4 linked regions of the Homo sapiens genome follow. The protein of the gene in region 1 purifies or fractionates together with the protein of each later gene. This does not show direct contact. Each region holds a gene or a part of one and is shown in the gene's direction. Other genes may lie near its edges.

Region 1 (5,487 bases):
ATTTTTAGTAGGGATGGGGTTTCACCGTGTGAGCCAGGATGGTCTCGATCTCCTGACCTTGTGATCCTCCCACCTCAGCCTCCCAAAGTGCTGGGATTACAGGCGTGAGCCACCGTGCCCGGCCCTGGCTTATTTTTAAAATTTTTTGTAGAGATGGAGTCTCACCACGTTGCCCAGGCTGGTCTTAAACTCCTGGCCTCAAGCAATCCTCCCACGTTGGCCTCCCAAAGCTCTGGGATTACAAGAGTGAGCCAACATGCCTGGCCCAAAATACCCTAGTTATTTCTTTTTTTCTTTCTTTCTTTTTTTTTTTTATTACCCTAGTTATTTCTGATTCAAGCAGCAGAAACAGAAATAAAAATTATTTAAAGTATCCTAGTTAAATTTTAAAAGGAGTTGGGACATAAAAGGATTATGTAGTAATCAGTGGCTGGAGAGAAAGTTTATTGTACAAATAAGTTTAATCTTAGGGCTTAGGAGTTTTCCATAAGGACATCCAAGACCATTTTGTTCTTTATTTCTCTTTCTCTGAGAATGGCAATGAGGCTCTCTGTCATACTTCTTTGATCCAGGCATCCCCTGAATCTCCCAGAAGTTGGTTTTAATAATCTGAATTTCCTAAAAGCCAATTGTTTGGATTTAGTCATAATTCTAGAAAAGTCTGTCCGTGTGTAAGAAATGGAAAGAGGAGAGGCTCTCCATCACTTCATAAACCAACAGCCCCACCTGCTCTTTTGACAATTGTGGGCACTGTTGTGATGCTGTTGAACTACATTATTTGTCCACAGTGCCTCCTAGTGTTCAAAGACCTCCTAAATTGTAGTACATCTCCATAAAGTACAATTTTAGGAAAAATTGCTGTCTTTTGATTTAGAGACGTCATTACTGACCCATCAGCAGCAAAGCCAAGAGAATTTTCATTTTATTATTTTTCTCTGCCCTACTTGGAGATTGTTTGAACACTTTCATGAGATTTTGAACCAGAAATTCAGAGTTGACTTGTGACTGAGGAAGTGAAGTTCTTCAGTAAGAATAAAGCCTATGGCTGGGCACGGTGGGTCACACCTGTAATCCCAGCATTTTGGTAGGCCGAGGCGGGCGGATCACCTGAGGTCTGGAGTTCACGACCAGCCTGACATGGAGAAACCCAGTCTCTACTAAAATACAAAATTAGCCAGGGTGGTGGCACATGCGTAATCTCAGCTACTCGGGAGGCTGAGGCAGGAGAATCACTTGAACCTGGGAGGTGGAGGTTGCGGTGAGCCAAGATCGCGCCATTGCACTCCAGCCTGGGCAATAAGGCGAAACTCCGTCTAAAAAAAATAATAAAAATAAATAAAGCCTATAGCTGTATTCCTACTCTAGCCAGCTGCCCACTGCATGTGTAGGAGCCAATCAAATGATTGTAATTTCCTGATCTCCCATGTAAAAATGTACACATGTGACATATCTGGGCCTCTGGAGTGAGTACAAGAAAACCTGCCTAGGAGGACTAATGGAATGTGAAGTGACCACTGCTCATCTTTCGAATCCTCATGTTTCAGAGATGATCCCTGGATCCGTTCTGATTAGTGATGCTGTTTTTCTGGAGTTGGTCGATGCCCTGAATCAGTACTCAGATGAGGAGGAGGAAGGGCACAATGACACCTCAGATGGAAAGCAGGATGACAGCAAAGAAGATCTGCCAGTAACAAGAAAGAGAAAGCGACATGCTATTGAAGGTACGTAGCACTGGCTCCCTTATTCCTTTTTTAAAGTGACAGGGATAGGGAAGAAGGAAGAACTGGAAAGATTTGTTGCCTATTAAAGGCTGTTGGTGCTTCTTGTTGGTTCACTTAAAAGGAGAACATGATCATTAAGTGATAGCTTCAGATAGCTGTGACTTGGGTGAAGAAGAAAGTAGAAGAACTGATAGAATAATCATTGCTATTCATTTCTAATTATATGTCTCATGTGAAATTGGGATCATGCCAATTTATATATATGTATATATCAAATTTTATATCCCTTTTTATTTAATCTTATGAGTACTTTTCCATGTCACTAATGTTTAATTTAAAATTTAATAGTTTAATTATACTATATGTCCAGGGACATAGTGTATTCTCTTTTATTGTATCATAATTATAGTATCAGTGTAGTTCTTCAGCATCCACTTCATGATAGGATTCTTCTATGTTCAGGCCTCTCTATGAACACTCTTTTCACCTCCAAATTCTTATTTTTATTTTTAAAATCTATTATTTATTATTTTTTTGAGACACAGTCTTGCTCTGTTACCCAAGGTGGAGTGCAGTGGCACAATCTCGGCTCACTGCAACCTCCACCTCCCTGGTTCAAGTGATTCTTGTGTGTCAGCCTTCTAAGTAGCTGGGACTATAGGCATGCACCACCATGCCCAGCTAAGTTTTGTATTTTTAGTAGAGTTGGGGTTTTACCATGTTGGCCAGGCTGGTCTCAAACTCCTGGCCTCAAGTGATCCGCTCCCCTCGGCCTCTCAAAGTACTGACTGGGATTACAGGCGTGAGCCACCTCACATCCAGATTCTAATTGGGACTGTGGATTTTGTTGTTAATATGTAGACTACTCTAACTTCCTTATTTACTGGTAGCATATATCAGATAAGTCCAGATAGCACTGATGTTTATATATCTCCAAACAATCAGTGGTTAGGTTAACAAAGCAGCTGTAATCAAAATGCTATGACAAAAGGAAAAAAGATCACACAGATTTGTTTACGTGTTCTGATAATCGCACTCAGGAGCTTTTTATCATTTCCAATTCAGGCAACAAAAAGAGTTCCAAGAAACAGTTCCCAAATGACATGATCTTCAGTGCAATTGCCTCAATGTTCCCTGAGAATGGTGTCCCAGATGACATGAAGGAGAGGTAGGGAAAGCTGTCCCACTTAGGCCATATACAGAGTGCTCGGACAAAACCTTTATTCCCTCCTAATTTTTGGTTAGTAAAAAGCTTTGTTTATGGTAAGGGCATTATGATTTGCCCGCAATTTGATTATTTCTTGCTTACTCAATTACCTCTAAATGCCCCCCTTACTATATTAAGGGTCATCGTATACTGGCTTTTGAGTGAGTCTGGGCAGAGAACATTTACTCTGCCATTTTTCTGGAGAGTTAACTCCAGCACCATCTTAACAAATCCTTCCCTCCCCTTACTTTCCAACATTTGCCCAACCCAGCATAATTACAATGGTGGACCCACTCTAGTTATCTACCATTCTCTTATCAACCAGACCTATAAAAAACACCCATCCTCCCTTGGCAGACCGTAGGTGAGCTACTGTCAGTACCCAATCTGTATTTCCTCAGTGGAGGCAGTTCCTCGGAGGAACTCTTATCTCTCTTTTCTTAAATAGGTATCGAGAACTAACAGAGATGTCAGACCCCAATGCACTTCCCCCTCAGTGCACACCCAACATCGATGGCCCCAATGCCAAGTCTGTGCAGCGGGAGCAATCTCTGCACTCCTTCCACACACTTTTTTGCCGGCGCTGCTTTAAATACGACTGCTTCCTTCACCGTGAGTGGGGCTACTCTGTTTGAAATGCTCTCCTCTCTTCCATCCCCAGCCACCATTTCCTTCTCTTTGTTCTGGTTTCTCGTATAGAGTTCCTGGCTTCTGTTCTAACGTTTTACAAAGGGCCAGTTCTATTTTCCCTTGCTCAATTATAGTGCAACATGCTTTGCATGATAGGGACAGACTAACTAGCAACTTATCTGTCCCTCAGTACCTCTTAGCTTTGAAAGCATTGTGTTGATGTCAGAAATGACTGAATTTTGTGCACCCTGATGGTAGCCGTTTATATCGAATTCTAACTCCTACAATAGCTCTCTAATTCACTTTTGTTTCTCCCCATCTTGTCAAGTGGATAGACCACTGGCAACAAGACAGTTTTTGTTTTCCAGCTTTTCATGCCACCCCTAATGTATATAAACGCAAGAATAAAGAAATCAAGATTGAACCAGAACCATGTGGCACAGACTGCTTCCTTTTGCTGGTATGTTCTTAAGCTGTTCTGGCATTATTAACTTCATTCTGGGAACACAAGCCACGTGAGCCAGTACACAGCACTCTGGGGGTCATATAGCACAAATAAAACATGGCTTTTGCTCTTAAGGAGCTCCCCAGTTACTGTGGGACCGCTCTTAAGGAACTCCCCAGACATGGTAGCACTATAAAGTTAGTCTGATGGAGTGCAGATTCGAAGATCATTAAAGGCTTGCCTGCTCTAAATATCATCTGCTTAGATTTCAGAGCCTAAAACTGTATTGTTAGAATTGGAGCAAAGTGTATGCTGGGGGGGTGGGTACACACTCTAGTTTCTTTGCTATCTTGTTATAAATGCATATAACTATGAGACGAATAGCACGTGATGATGCTGATGTCTTGTTGTGATCAACCAGATGGACCGTTCCCTGATGGACAGACCTTAAGAAGCAGCATAAATGGTCTGGCATACCTGTGGGGAAGCCATATATTGAGAGCTAGAAGGAAATAGATCAACTGGACTTGCCAAAGACACAGTTGGGCTTTTTACACAATAGGATGAGCCTAGGCGATGAATAAAATACCTTGATAAAATTTCTGCCACCTATTAAAATTATATTATACAACCAGCCAAGTGCTTTTGGAACCATCTTTAGTGGGATAATAGATGGAAAGATGGTAGAGAATGCTGTTGGGCACACATGTGGAAAATGGGCCGTACTGTAAAAGCAAAAGAATAGACGTTATTGGGTTTATTTTTTCCTAATGTGTATTGACTCCTTCCTATGTGCCAAGTATCATAGTAGACCCTTAACATACCTTGTCTTATTTTCATCCTATAACAGTGTCATGAGGTAGAGGAAACTGGATTACAAAAGTTATATATTTTGCCTAAAGTTTGTTGATAAGTCAGCGGTATGGCAGCGATGAAATTCAAGTCAGGGTCTAACTCCACAGATCATGCTTTTAAAATTACTCCATGTTTTTCAGCCAGGCGTCGTAGTGCACACCTATAATCCCAGCACTTTGGGAGGCTGAGGGAGGTGGATCACCTGAGGTCAGGAGTTTGAGACCAGCCTGGTCAACATGGAAAAACCCTGTCTCTACTGAAAATACAAAATTAACCAGGTGTGGTGGCGCACGCCTGTAATCCCAGCTACTCAGGAGGCTGAGACAGGAGAATTGCTTGAACCCAGGAGGTGGAGGCTGCAGTGAGCCGAGATCACGCCACTGTACTCCAGCCTGGGTGAGATAGTGAGACTCCATCTCAAAAAAAAAATAATAATAAAATGAAATTACTTCATCCTTAAAAAAATATATATGCCATGTTATGTCAACATACCAGCATTTATATAAGTCAAAAGGTCATTGCCCTTCTCACAGGAGTCACCTTGATACCCTGTACATGTATTACGAAGATGCTGCCAATGCCTGAAATGTATGCATGTTTAACTTACAGAGATAATGTATGCACAATTT
Region 2 (3,855 bases), on another chromosome or scaffold:
CAGTAGCTACTTGATGTCTTTTTTGTTTTGTTTTGTTTTTCAAAAAACAACTGAGACACATGTATAAGTCAGACAACTAAAATAGAATTTTATTTTTAGTTCTGGGGACAAATAAGTTTGGTATGGATATCAGGACCAGCCTTCTCATCCTCCTGTGTGTTTGTTGCCTGTTGACTCTGGAAATTTGTAGAAGGAGGAGGTATATTATTTGATTCTTTCATTTTCTGAAGTGAAAGTCATTGTAGTTAAAGATAGAAGGGAGGGAGAAATCTTTAGTATTGGGTATCTTACTTGTAGTTCAACCTCCTTTTCTTCTAAGTTTTCTATAAACTTAGAGATATAACCAACATTCTTCCTTCCTCTCTTGTTGGTACTCCTTTATATATTTCTGACTTGTAGGAATGGTGGGATCTAATAATATTGTTAGAAAAATGAGTTGTAGAGTGAAGCTGCCTGAATAGAAAATTATCCCCTCTCATTCTGACATCTCATTTTGCTTCTCATTTTTGAAGTGTAACTACCTATGCTGGTTTACAGTCTTTTTTTAAATGAATTTAAAAGTAATGTGTGTTCATTAAAGAAAATTTTGAAACTAATGAATAGCAGAAAGAGAAAAGTAACTAGAATAAGTTTAATAGTTAGGGACCTTATTTTTAGCTTTTATTTAGAATTACTAAAGTACATATATTAACTACTTTTAGTTAAAACTAAAAAATTTGTTTTATAATATGGAATTTGATATGTATATCTTAGTCATGCTTTTTTTTAGGTAAAAATTTTGCACACTGATTTGAAGTTTAGGAAGAATTTCTTGATTTGTAGCTTTGAGACACGAAGGACATCCTATTTCATATCAAATAGGATATCAAAGGGCTTTTTGGGGGTTTATGGGATATCAGGGAGAACATAATGCATGATTTAGTTTGTAGTTTTAAAATCTAGGATATTATTGAAATTCAATTGATGAATTTTTGAATTCATCATTTGAGTTTTGAATGTTAGATATTGGATTATCATACAAATTTTTGTTAAGTTTTCTGTTAAATACTTTTTTTTTAGATGAAGTCTGAGAGAAAGTGAGTGATGTGTACATTTGATTTTTTTTTTTTTTTTTTTTTTTTTTGGAGACGGAGTCTTGCTCTGTCACCCAGGCTGGAGTGCAATGGCGTGATCTCAGCTCACCGCAACCTCCGCCTCCCAGGCTCAAGCCATTCTCCTGCCTTAGCCTCCTAAGTAGCTGGGATTACAGGCACCTGCCACCATACCCAGCTAATTTTTGTATTTTTAGTAGAGATGGAGTTTTGCCATGTTGGCCAGGCTGGTCTTGAACTCCTGACCTTAAGTGATCCGCCCACCTTGGCCTCCCAAAGTGCTGAGATTACAGGCATGAGCCACTGGGCATGGCCACATTTGATAAATTTTAATAAACTGATTAGTAATCAGAAAGTAAGGGGTAAGGCATTAGAAGTGGCTATAGTGGTTTTTATAATTATCTTAATATTTAATACTATAATACATTTGTTTAAAAATTCTTTCTAGCCATTATTCTTTTAGCACTTCATATGCAGATACATATGTATACCTGTTAGTACATTGTCTGCATTACATGATGAAATTCTGCAGTAGTAACTTGATGTAGACATTGGGTATATATAATATAAAAACTCAAGTTGTGTTTATTTCAAATGCTGTCCTTTTTAATTAAAATTTAAATTTTAGTGTTTAGATTTTATTTGAGAGGCTGGAAATATAAGAAAATGAAAATCACATTTAGTATATTTTTCAAGAAAAGAGTTCAGTTTATGAATTTTGGGTGTCCCAGCTCCAACTGAACTTCTGAAACATACTAGAAAAAATTTGCTTCAGTAATAATACATGTTTTTATTTCTGTAGCCTATGAGGTAATGTCTTAGAAAAAAAGAAAAAGTTTTGCAAATTATTTCCACTTTTTGACCATCAAATTTATTACTAAAACAAGAGACTAATAATTTCTTACTGTTCTTTCTGTGGATTAAAATAAGAAAATATTCAGACTTCTTAGATGAGACATCTCATTCACAGACTTTGGTAACTGACAGATTGAAGTTAAGGTTTCTAATTTTCTGTATTTTATATTTTTGTACTGTAATTATAATTGGATTTTAGGGTGAGTTTTTAATAATAAAGAGATGATAAAATTTATGCTAGTTTATCATGTTTATTCAGTGTTTTTCATTTAGATTACTTTCAAATGTTTGTAGTGATCAATAAAAAGGTAACATAAATAATGGGTCATTCCAAATTATTTGAATAGAAAATTTTTGATAAACTAAAAATGAATTACAAATTGAATTTTGTCACTAATCCAAATTTAGGTTAACAAAAATTTACTTTTGTTTATATTCTTGTTCCAAATCTTATAAAATGCCATTAATTATTTTCAAAACATGGGAAGTAGTGTATGCTAAATATAATGTTTATATTTTATAATTGAGTACCTTGGAGTACTTTAGTCATTTTGAACATCAGCTCTTTCTTTTTTTTTTTTTTTTTTTTTAAGAGACAGGACAGGAGAGTCTCTCTCTCTCTTTTTTTTTTTTTAAGAGACCCTTGCTCAGGCTGGAGTGCAATGGTACAGTCATACATAGCTCACTGAAGCCTTGAACTCCTGAGGTCAAGTTATCTTCCTGCCTCAGCAATTCTTGTTATACGTAATATAGACTAAAGCGCCTGCTCTAGAAATTTATCTTCAAAAATGAAACAAAATAGAACAAAGGTTGTGATTTTAGTTTATCTAAAATGTGGAGTTTCCTTCCTCTTGCCACCAGATCAGAGAAAAAATTTTGTAATGATATAAGTTGATTGAGATTTTTTATGGCATTTTGCGTAGGAATATATATTGCACAACTAGGCAGTTATCCACATTTATTATCCCTGAACTTTGAATTATAATTTTACATATGATGAGGCTGGCTAAACTTTAATGGTATTTTTTATTTTAGAAACCTAGTAAATACATATTTACATTTGTAATTACTTGCTGTAATCTTACATTGAATCAGTTGTATTCTGTTTCGTGTATTGTGTCCCCCCCCCCTTTTTTTAATAAAGGAAGCACTGTGACTGTTTTTATTTTAAAGACTTTTTTTTTTTTTTTAAGAGCAGATTTAGGTTGTCCCCTTCTGCCACACATGCATTGCCTCCTCCATTATCAACATCCCTCCACCATAATGGTAGATAGTTATAATTGATGAAGCTACATCAATACATCATTATCATCCAAAGCTGTGACTTCTTTTAGTAATAAAAAGAAGTTTCAAAAATATTACACTTTTGGAGATAATATCCTGTCATACTGAAAAGCCAAAATGTAACATTCATGTATCATATTTTTTTCTTAGTTGAATACGGTATAGGATTGTTATGAAGAGAAGATAAAACTTTTGAATCATTTTAGAAGATAATGGTAGTATTACATTGTTTCCTTATGTAGTTTTTGTACTTCTTTTGGCTTGGTACCTAATGATTATCATATAGATTGAGTGTAGCTGTTTGAGGAACTACTATGTTTTGGATTATTTTCTTTGAGATAGTAAAAATACTTAACATTTGAAACCATGATAAACTTTCTTAAGGTTTTTATGTAAAATGAAGTCTCATCTGTTGTATCAGATTGTTTTGGGGAGTTTAAAATGAGATATTAGTACTTTTTGTAATCGCTTATTGTCATTTGTGTTTGATTCTTAAAGTTATTTGAAATCCTAGTTCTGTAATAACCACTCTTCTGTGGTCTTAAATTTTAGAAACCCTGAGGTTGATACCAGAATAATTTATGGAGTGCTACTTCACTTCTGAGGGAGGTAGGGAGAAAAGCAA
Region 3 (3,855 bases), on another chromosome or scaffold:
CGGCCCTGCTGCTTTTTATTTTGATGTTATAAAATACTGCTGTCCCGGTATCAGTATCTTTGTGTGTGCCCTGTCCCCTGAGGCAGTTGTTGATGAAAAGTGGTTATATTTCAGAGGGTCTGGGCTATCACATGCTTAACTGTCTACTTCACATCACACGCGGGTTTGGAGCCATAAAATGCTAAAGCGGAAGGACCTCCGCCAGGGGCCAGCCAGGTAGCCCACCCTGTGCTACAGAGGTGGCATCACAAACATAAGTTGCAGCCCTTCCAGAAGCGGCCTTGTTTACCCAGAACCCACTTCCCTCTCAGTCACCTGGTTTGCGGTGCACTTAGCATCCCCTTCATTGTGGGTGCCTTGAATATTCTTCATAAATAACAACTGATGGTTTTTTAAAATACTGTATCTTATTGCAACCAGTTAGCTCTTGTCAAGAGCCATTTATCACAGCATCTGAAAGAGAAAGGGACTCTGTGTTCATTGAGTGGTGGGGCGGGAAAGATGATTTTTTCTTTAGGGCCTCCATATTTCCCTTAAATTTAAGCCTTCTGGATATTCTAAGAGGAGGGATTGCTTCTAAACTTCTGTCACGCTGGGTTTGACATTTTCTTACAGGTGTGGAAAATGGTCTAACATAATGCCTGTCACAAAGTAGGTAAAAATGTTTGCTGAATAAAGGCATGGATTCTGTAATTTTTGCTTTGTAAGAAAAGGCTATTTTTTATCATGGGGAATTTTTTAAAGAGACCTGTTTATAGTGGAGTCACATCATATGCCTCCTGAAGCAAATTTAGATATATGCTGAGCCATGAATTTTTTTTTTTTTTTTTAAAGAAAAATGAGGCCGGGCACAGTGGCTCACGTCTATAATCCCAGCACTTTGGGAGGCCGAGGCAGGCGGATCACGAGGTCAGGAGATCAAGACCATCCTGGCTAACATGGTGAAACCCCATCTCTACTAAAAATAGAAAAATTTAGCCAGGCATGGCAGCGGGCGCCTGTACTCCCAGCTACTCAGGAGGCTGAGGCAGGAGAATCGCTTGAACCTAGGAGGCAGAGGTTGCAGTGAGCCGAGATCGTGCCACTGCACTCCAGCCTGGGCGACAGAGCGAGACTCCATCTCAAAAAGAAAAGAAAAGAAAAATGACAAGAATTGGCCATTTAAAATTGCAGGTGACTGCCCTGGCATCAGCGAGTGTGCCCTTGCCATGAAGTCCCCAGTCAGTGCGGTTCTCACAGCATGGTTCAGGGGCTCACCCCAGCCCCACGCCATGCAGTGCACATCTGCACAGGTCTGCTCTGACGGCACGGCGTCCCCCACCGTAGACCCTGCATATGATGTGGCTCCATGCTAGTCATCCCCTTCCCAGCAGCCGATGCTCAGGTGGGTAGCAGGGCCTGCAAAGATTTCCACTCTGTAACATGTATCATAATTCTCACCTTTCCTCAATAGCTTCCTTTGCTCCAATAAGCTTTGCAATCAAGGCCAAAGAAAATGATCTGCTTCCCCTGGAAAAAAATCGTGTTAAGCTAGATGATGACAGTGATGATGATGAAGAAAGCAAAGAAGGCCAAGAAAGTTCTAGTAGTGCTGCAAACACTAACCCAGCAGTTGCCCCACCCTGTGTAGTTGTTGAGGAGAAGAAGCCTCAACTTACCCAGGAGGAGCTAGAAGCAAAGCAAGGTTTGTTGATAGCTTTTAAACTTCTTGAAAGAAAGGAAATACACAAATATAAGATTTATCTGCTAAGCCAAAAAATCTCGAGGCTGCCAACTAGAATCTGAAGCCTTTGGAAATCGACCTATTTGGGAGTTGTGTAACATGTCTGAGGTTTTGAAACGTTCTCTTTTAGAGGAATGAGCTCTGCTCTTCACTGAGCCTCAAATGCAGTGCCGCTGGCAGTTTGTTTTCGAAGAAACTGAGTTGGCCGTCTTAGCTCTAATGCGCCACAGTGGAATGCATTAATGGCAGCTCACTTTGCACTTGGCTGGCAGCCCCAGGGTAAAAGGCTCAGCCTGTCTTCCCAGCTCAGGAACCAAACTAGGAGATGCCCTCTTGTGAGGCTGCCTACCCACAGAACCATTGGGCCCTTGAAGGTGGTGTGTCCCCAGCTGGTTTTCCGGCTGCGGCTCATCTTCATGGGCCGCAGTGTGGCCACCACACCCACCCCAACACTGCTGGCAGCATGGGGACAGCATGTAGTCTTCCCATCCCGACTCCAGAATAAATTCTGCTCTGCATTAAAGCAGTCAAATAATGGTTGCTGCATTGTGGTTGTTATCTATTCTAACTGATTTTCTTAAATTGCTTTTCCTGTATACACACATTCAGATCAAGCAACATTTGAAAGAGGCCAATTTTCAGGCCAGGCGCGGTAGCTCATGCCTGTAATCCCAGCACTTTGGGAGGCTAAGGTGGGTGGATCACCTGAGGTCAGAAGTTAGAAACCAGCCTGGCCAACATGGTGAGACCCCATCTCTACTGAAAAAACAAAATTAGCCGGGCGTGGTGGCACACGCCTGTAATCCCAGCTACTTGGGAGGCTGAGGCAGGAGAATCGCTTGAACCCGGGAGGCAGAGGTTGCAGTGAGCTGAGATCACGCCATTGCACTACAGCCTGGGCAACAAGAGCAAAAACTCCGTCTCAAAGAAAAAAAAAAAAAGCCATTTTTCAACCACAATCCACCATCAAGAACTTCCATTGTGCTGTGGTGTTCTCCCTAAGCAAACTTGTACTCATGCCTGTACATCTGAATCTGTCCTTCCTGTGTGTAAACTAACCAACTGTCGGATCATTTGGAATAAAACACTTATAGAGTATTCATTGCCTGGTGTGAATATTTTGGATATATGCTGAGAGCCACTCTGAGGTTTTCATTATTCCAGCTTTCGTTAGTGTAGAGTCTCACCAACCTTCTAACTCTGAAAGTAAAATGTCCAAAAAAGGGCACGTTATAAACTAATTCTCTCAAAATTTGATTTGTCCAATGTATGTACCTATTCAGAAACTTTAACTAACTGCATTGTATGACACTTTTGCAACCTGTGAAAATTAAGATCAGATAAAATACTGTTTGCTCTAAACTTCTCTTTTTTCTTTGTTTATTCCTTAAGCAAAGCAAAAGCTGGAAGATCGCCTCGCAGCTGCTGCCCGGGAAAAGCTGGCCCAGGCGTCTAAGGAGTCAAAAGAGAAACAGCTTCAAGCAGAACGTAAAAGGAAAGCGGCGTTATTTTTACAGACCCTCAAAAATCCTCTGCCGGAAGCAGAAGCTGGGAAAATTGAGGAGAGTCCTTTCAGTGTCGAGGTATAGTAAAATCCCACATTGGTATCTGCGGGGCTGTGTGATACATAGAGGCAGGGAGGATGTGTCTCCCTCCAGCTGCCCTAGTCTCTGGCCTGAGTGAGGGATATGAGCTCCCAGCTCTTCCTCCCGACATGGTTGAGTGGCTTTTACTCTATAGCAGTGAATCTAAGAGTTTGCCAGCAGTCTCCCCCGTCAGTGCACAGTCACGCCAGCAGCAAACACTGCCCGCGATTTCAGGGGAGCCTCTGCTTCACGGCTGCCCTTATGGGGCTGGCAGGAGGGCTTGGGGAGTGCCTCCCATGGGTCCTGCTGGGGAAATGTGGTGGACACACTTCACTGAAGCCCCGCCTCCGCAGCAGCACCAGTATTGCGCTCACACGTGGGGCAGAAATCCTTTTGCCACGGTCTGTATCAATGTCAGCACTTTAATTAAAGAGAAAAAGGAAGAGGGAGTTAAGAGAACAGACTCCAGGAGTACATGGCTCCTTCCTCAGTGGTGTGAGCAGGAATAGGGCCTTACATGGGGGTCATCACGTGGCTGCCTTACAA
Region 4 (2,909 bases), on another chromosome or scaffold:
CAGGAGAGAATCCCAGCGCTCTTGCCATGCTGTTTATACCTGTTCCCTTTTTTAGGAAGATGAGACTAAGCCAGAAGATTGCATACCAGATGTACCAGGCAATGAACACGCCAGGGAATTTCTGGCTCATGCACCAACTAAAGGACTTTGGATGCCACTGGGGAAAGAAGTCAAAGTTATGCAGTGTGAGTGTGGGAGAGTTTCCCTAATCCATGCAACTTACATGCCTCAATTTACAAAGAGTGTTTACTTCTTTTATTTAACTTGTTCTCATCACAGCCCTCTTACAGCCAAGGCACGTTCTCCATCTTCTAGATAAGGAAGCATCCACCCCACCCCCCACCACCGTGCCATGTGAAGAAGAAAGAGGGCTGTCATCTTAAGCCAGGAAGAAAGCTCTCACCACAAACCCACCTTGCTGGGACCCTGATCTCAGATTTCCAACCTACAGAATGAATGAGAAAACCAGTTTCTGTTGTTTAGGCCACCCAGAATACGGCATTTTGTTATGTCAGCCCGAGCTGACTAAGACACCATCTTTCTGCAGGTCCCCTTAGCCTCTCTCCCGTGTTGGATCACCCATTTTCCTGTGTCTTGAGTCTTCTTTATTATCATATTCTCTCCTTATGGTGTAACAAATCCTATGGCTGTTACCTTCAAAATGGGTTTATAGAAGATAAAAATGTTAAGACCTTTACTTTTCTGGAATCGTCTTTAACAGATTTTTAACTACCAGGATATTGAATTCTAATTTAAAAATCAGTTTCCTTGAGAATTTTGATGGGAATGCTTCATTGCCTTGATTATTTGTTAAAAGCAAAGACAACGTGCCTCAGAGTTCAGTATCTATCGGTTTTTCTTCTTTGGGTGGGTTATATTTTCCCAGAGAAGGCTCCCACGTGGAGGGAAAGCCATACTATGAGTGTTCTGGGAGCCGAGTGGAGGGAGTCTGGAAATGTGTCCATCTGCTTTTCATTCATTCGTGTGACCCTTTGTGGCTATTGCAGCAGCTTCCTTCAGACCTACCTGATGTCTCCCTGGTCTCCCTGGCCAGAGACCCTCTGTTTTACCTTTTCCACACATTAAACAACCTTCTACCAGGGTCAGGAAAACAGGGTCTCACTCTGTCACCCGGGCTGGAGTGCAGTGGTGTGATCACAACTTACTGCAGCCTCAACCTCCCAGAATCAGGTGATCTCACATCAGCCTCTGAGATAGCTGGGACTACAGGCATGCGCCACCAGGCTTAGCTAATTTTTTTGTACTTTTGTAGAGATAGGGTTTCACCATGTTGCCTAAGCTAGTCTCGAACTCCTGGCCTCAAGCGATCTACCCGCCTCTGCCTCCCAAAGTGCTAGGATTACAGGTAGGAGCCACTGTGCCCAGCCACCATTAATATTCTAAGAGAACTTGTGATTTTATTTACTTAAAAGTGAGAGTTTTGAACAGACTCAACCTGAGAAAGAAGCTTTTATAGTGTCTAAAATAGTAAATGAGAAGCAGAGATACTTTATGAAAACATTTACTCTGAAAAATATACTGAAACACACTTTAAAAAAAATGTACCTTTTGGGCCGGGCGTGGTGGCTCACGCCTGTAATCCCAGCACTTTGGGAGGCTGAGGCGGGCGGATCACCTGAGGTCAGGAGTTGAAGACCAGCCTGGGCAACATGGCAAAACCCCATCTCTGCTAAAAATACAAAAATTAGCTGGGTGTGGTGGTACGCACCTGTAATCCCAGCTACCCAGGAGGCTGAAATAGAAGAATATCTTGAACCCAGGAGGCAGAGGTTGCAGTGAGCTGAGATCACGCCACTGCACTCCAGCCTGAGCGACAGAGCAGGACTCCATCTCAAAAAAAAAAATTCACCTTTTGAAGTAATTCTCCATTGGATTGCTTCATAAATACTTGGTGATAGAATATTATTCCTAAAGGTATAAGACTAAAGGATGCTTGGGGAAGCAATTAGTTTACCTCTGTTTCTGGGATCTTACATGGCTTGTCCATAATTATATTTTGTTTTAGAATTAGAGTTTAATGAAGAAAAACTTGAATATATTCTGCTGATTCTTTATCTTGAGTAGGTGAAACTGTTATCTTACAGAAATATTTCTCTTTTCGTTTTTAGGTTGGCGTTGCAAACGCTATGGTCACCGAACGGGTGACAAAGAATGCCCTTTCTTTATCAAAGGCAACCAAAAGTTAGAGCAGTTCAGAGTGGTAAGTAAAGTCCAAGAGTGTCAATTTACATTTATCAGAGATAGTGAAAATCAGTGAAGCAGAAAGTCACCAGTGAACTTGAATGGTCACATAAAATACATTCCCAGAAGCCCTTTGACCAAAGTGTGTGCTGTTAACTACATGCTTATTAAATTACATTTGTATGACAAATTAGCTCTTTTACAAAAAAAAGGAATTCTTATTAAAGTGATCTTTGTTTGTAACTTGGAACAGTGATTTTTTTTCTGAAACAGACATTGTTATCTATTCAACCGCACTTTTTAAAATTTACTGTGTAAAAAAGTCATGTTTCATGACTGAAATCAGGGATTTAATTTCCCGGTCTTTAAAGAGTACATGTCTTTAAACTGTAAGATTAAAGTGTCCGTATATTTTTTCTTTAGATGACAGTTATTCCCTGTATTTTTCTTTGTTTTTGAGGTGGCAGTGTTATAGCTCTGTGATTGCTCCTGCAGAGCAGGGCTACCCCAAAGACAGTGTGCTGAGAGTAGCCATTTCCTGTATTTTTCTAATTGGAAAATCCATTTTTTAGCCTTAATGAGTTTTCAGTGATGTGACCTAGAACATGTTGAACATGCAGCTACATCAAACAGTAAAAAAAAAAATAAACTGGTTTTCATAACATAGGCATTTCATTGTATTTAACTTGTGATCCATGAAGCCTAAC

The links. Proteins that work in one complex are often made in the same cells at the same time.
Region 2: the proteins of EZH1 (region 1) and MTF2 purify together in Homo sapiens (affinity purification with mass spectrometry; 3 studies listed by BioGRID and IntAct, with this or other methods). This does not show direct contact.
Region 3: the proteins of EZH1 (region 1) and SFSWAP purify together in Homo sapiens (affinity purification with mass spectrometry; one large-scale study listed by BioGRID and IntAct). This does not show direct contact.
Region 4: the proteins of EZH1 (region 1) and RP9 purify together in Homo sapiens (affinity purification with mass spectrometry; one large-scale study listed by BioGRID and IntAct). This does not show direct contact.

The regions. Positions count from the first base shown.
Region 1 is NC_000017.11:42,716,507-42,721,993, reverse strand, and holds part of EZH1 (histone-lysine N-methyltransferase EZH1), read left to right. Parts: intron 1-1,544; coding exon 1,545-1,721; intron 1,722-2,786; coding exon 2,787-2,889; intron 2,890-3,376; coding exon 3,377-3,540; intron 3,541-3,926; coding exon 3,927-4,018; intron 4,019-5,487.
Region 2 is NC_000001.11:93,120,696-93,124,550, forward strand, and holds part of MTF2 (metal-response element-binding transcription factor 2), read left to right. Parts: intron 1-3,855. UniProt on the Homo sapiens protein: Polycomb group (PcG) protein that specifically binds histone H3 trimethylated at 'Lys-36' (H3K36me3) and recruits the PRC2 complex, thus enhancing PRC2 H3K27me3 methylation activity.
Region 3 is NC_000012.12:131,763,003-131,766,857, forward strand, and holds part of SFSWAP (splicing factor, suppressor of white-apricot homolog), read left to right. Parts: intron 1-1,453; coding exon 1,454-1,684; intron 1,685-3,115; coding exon 3,116-3,306; intron 3,307-3,855.
Region 4 is NC_000007.14:33,096,583-33,099,491, reverse strand, and holds part of RP9 (retinitis pigmentosa 9 protein), read left to right. Parts: intron 1-55; coding exon 56-185; intron 186-2,129; coding exon 2,130-2,221; intron 2,222-2,909. UniProt on the Homo sapiens protein: Is thought to be a target protein for the PIM1 kinase. May play some roles in B-cell proliferation in association with PIM1.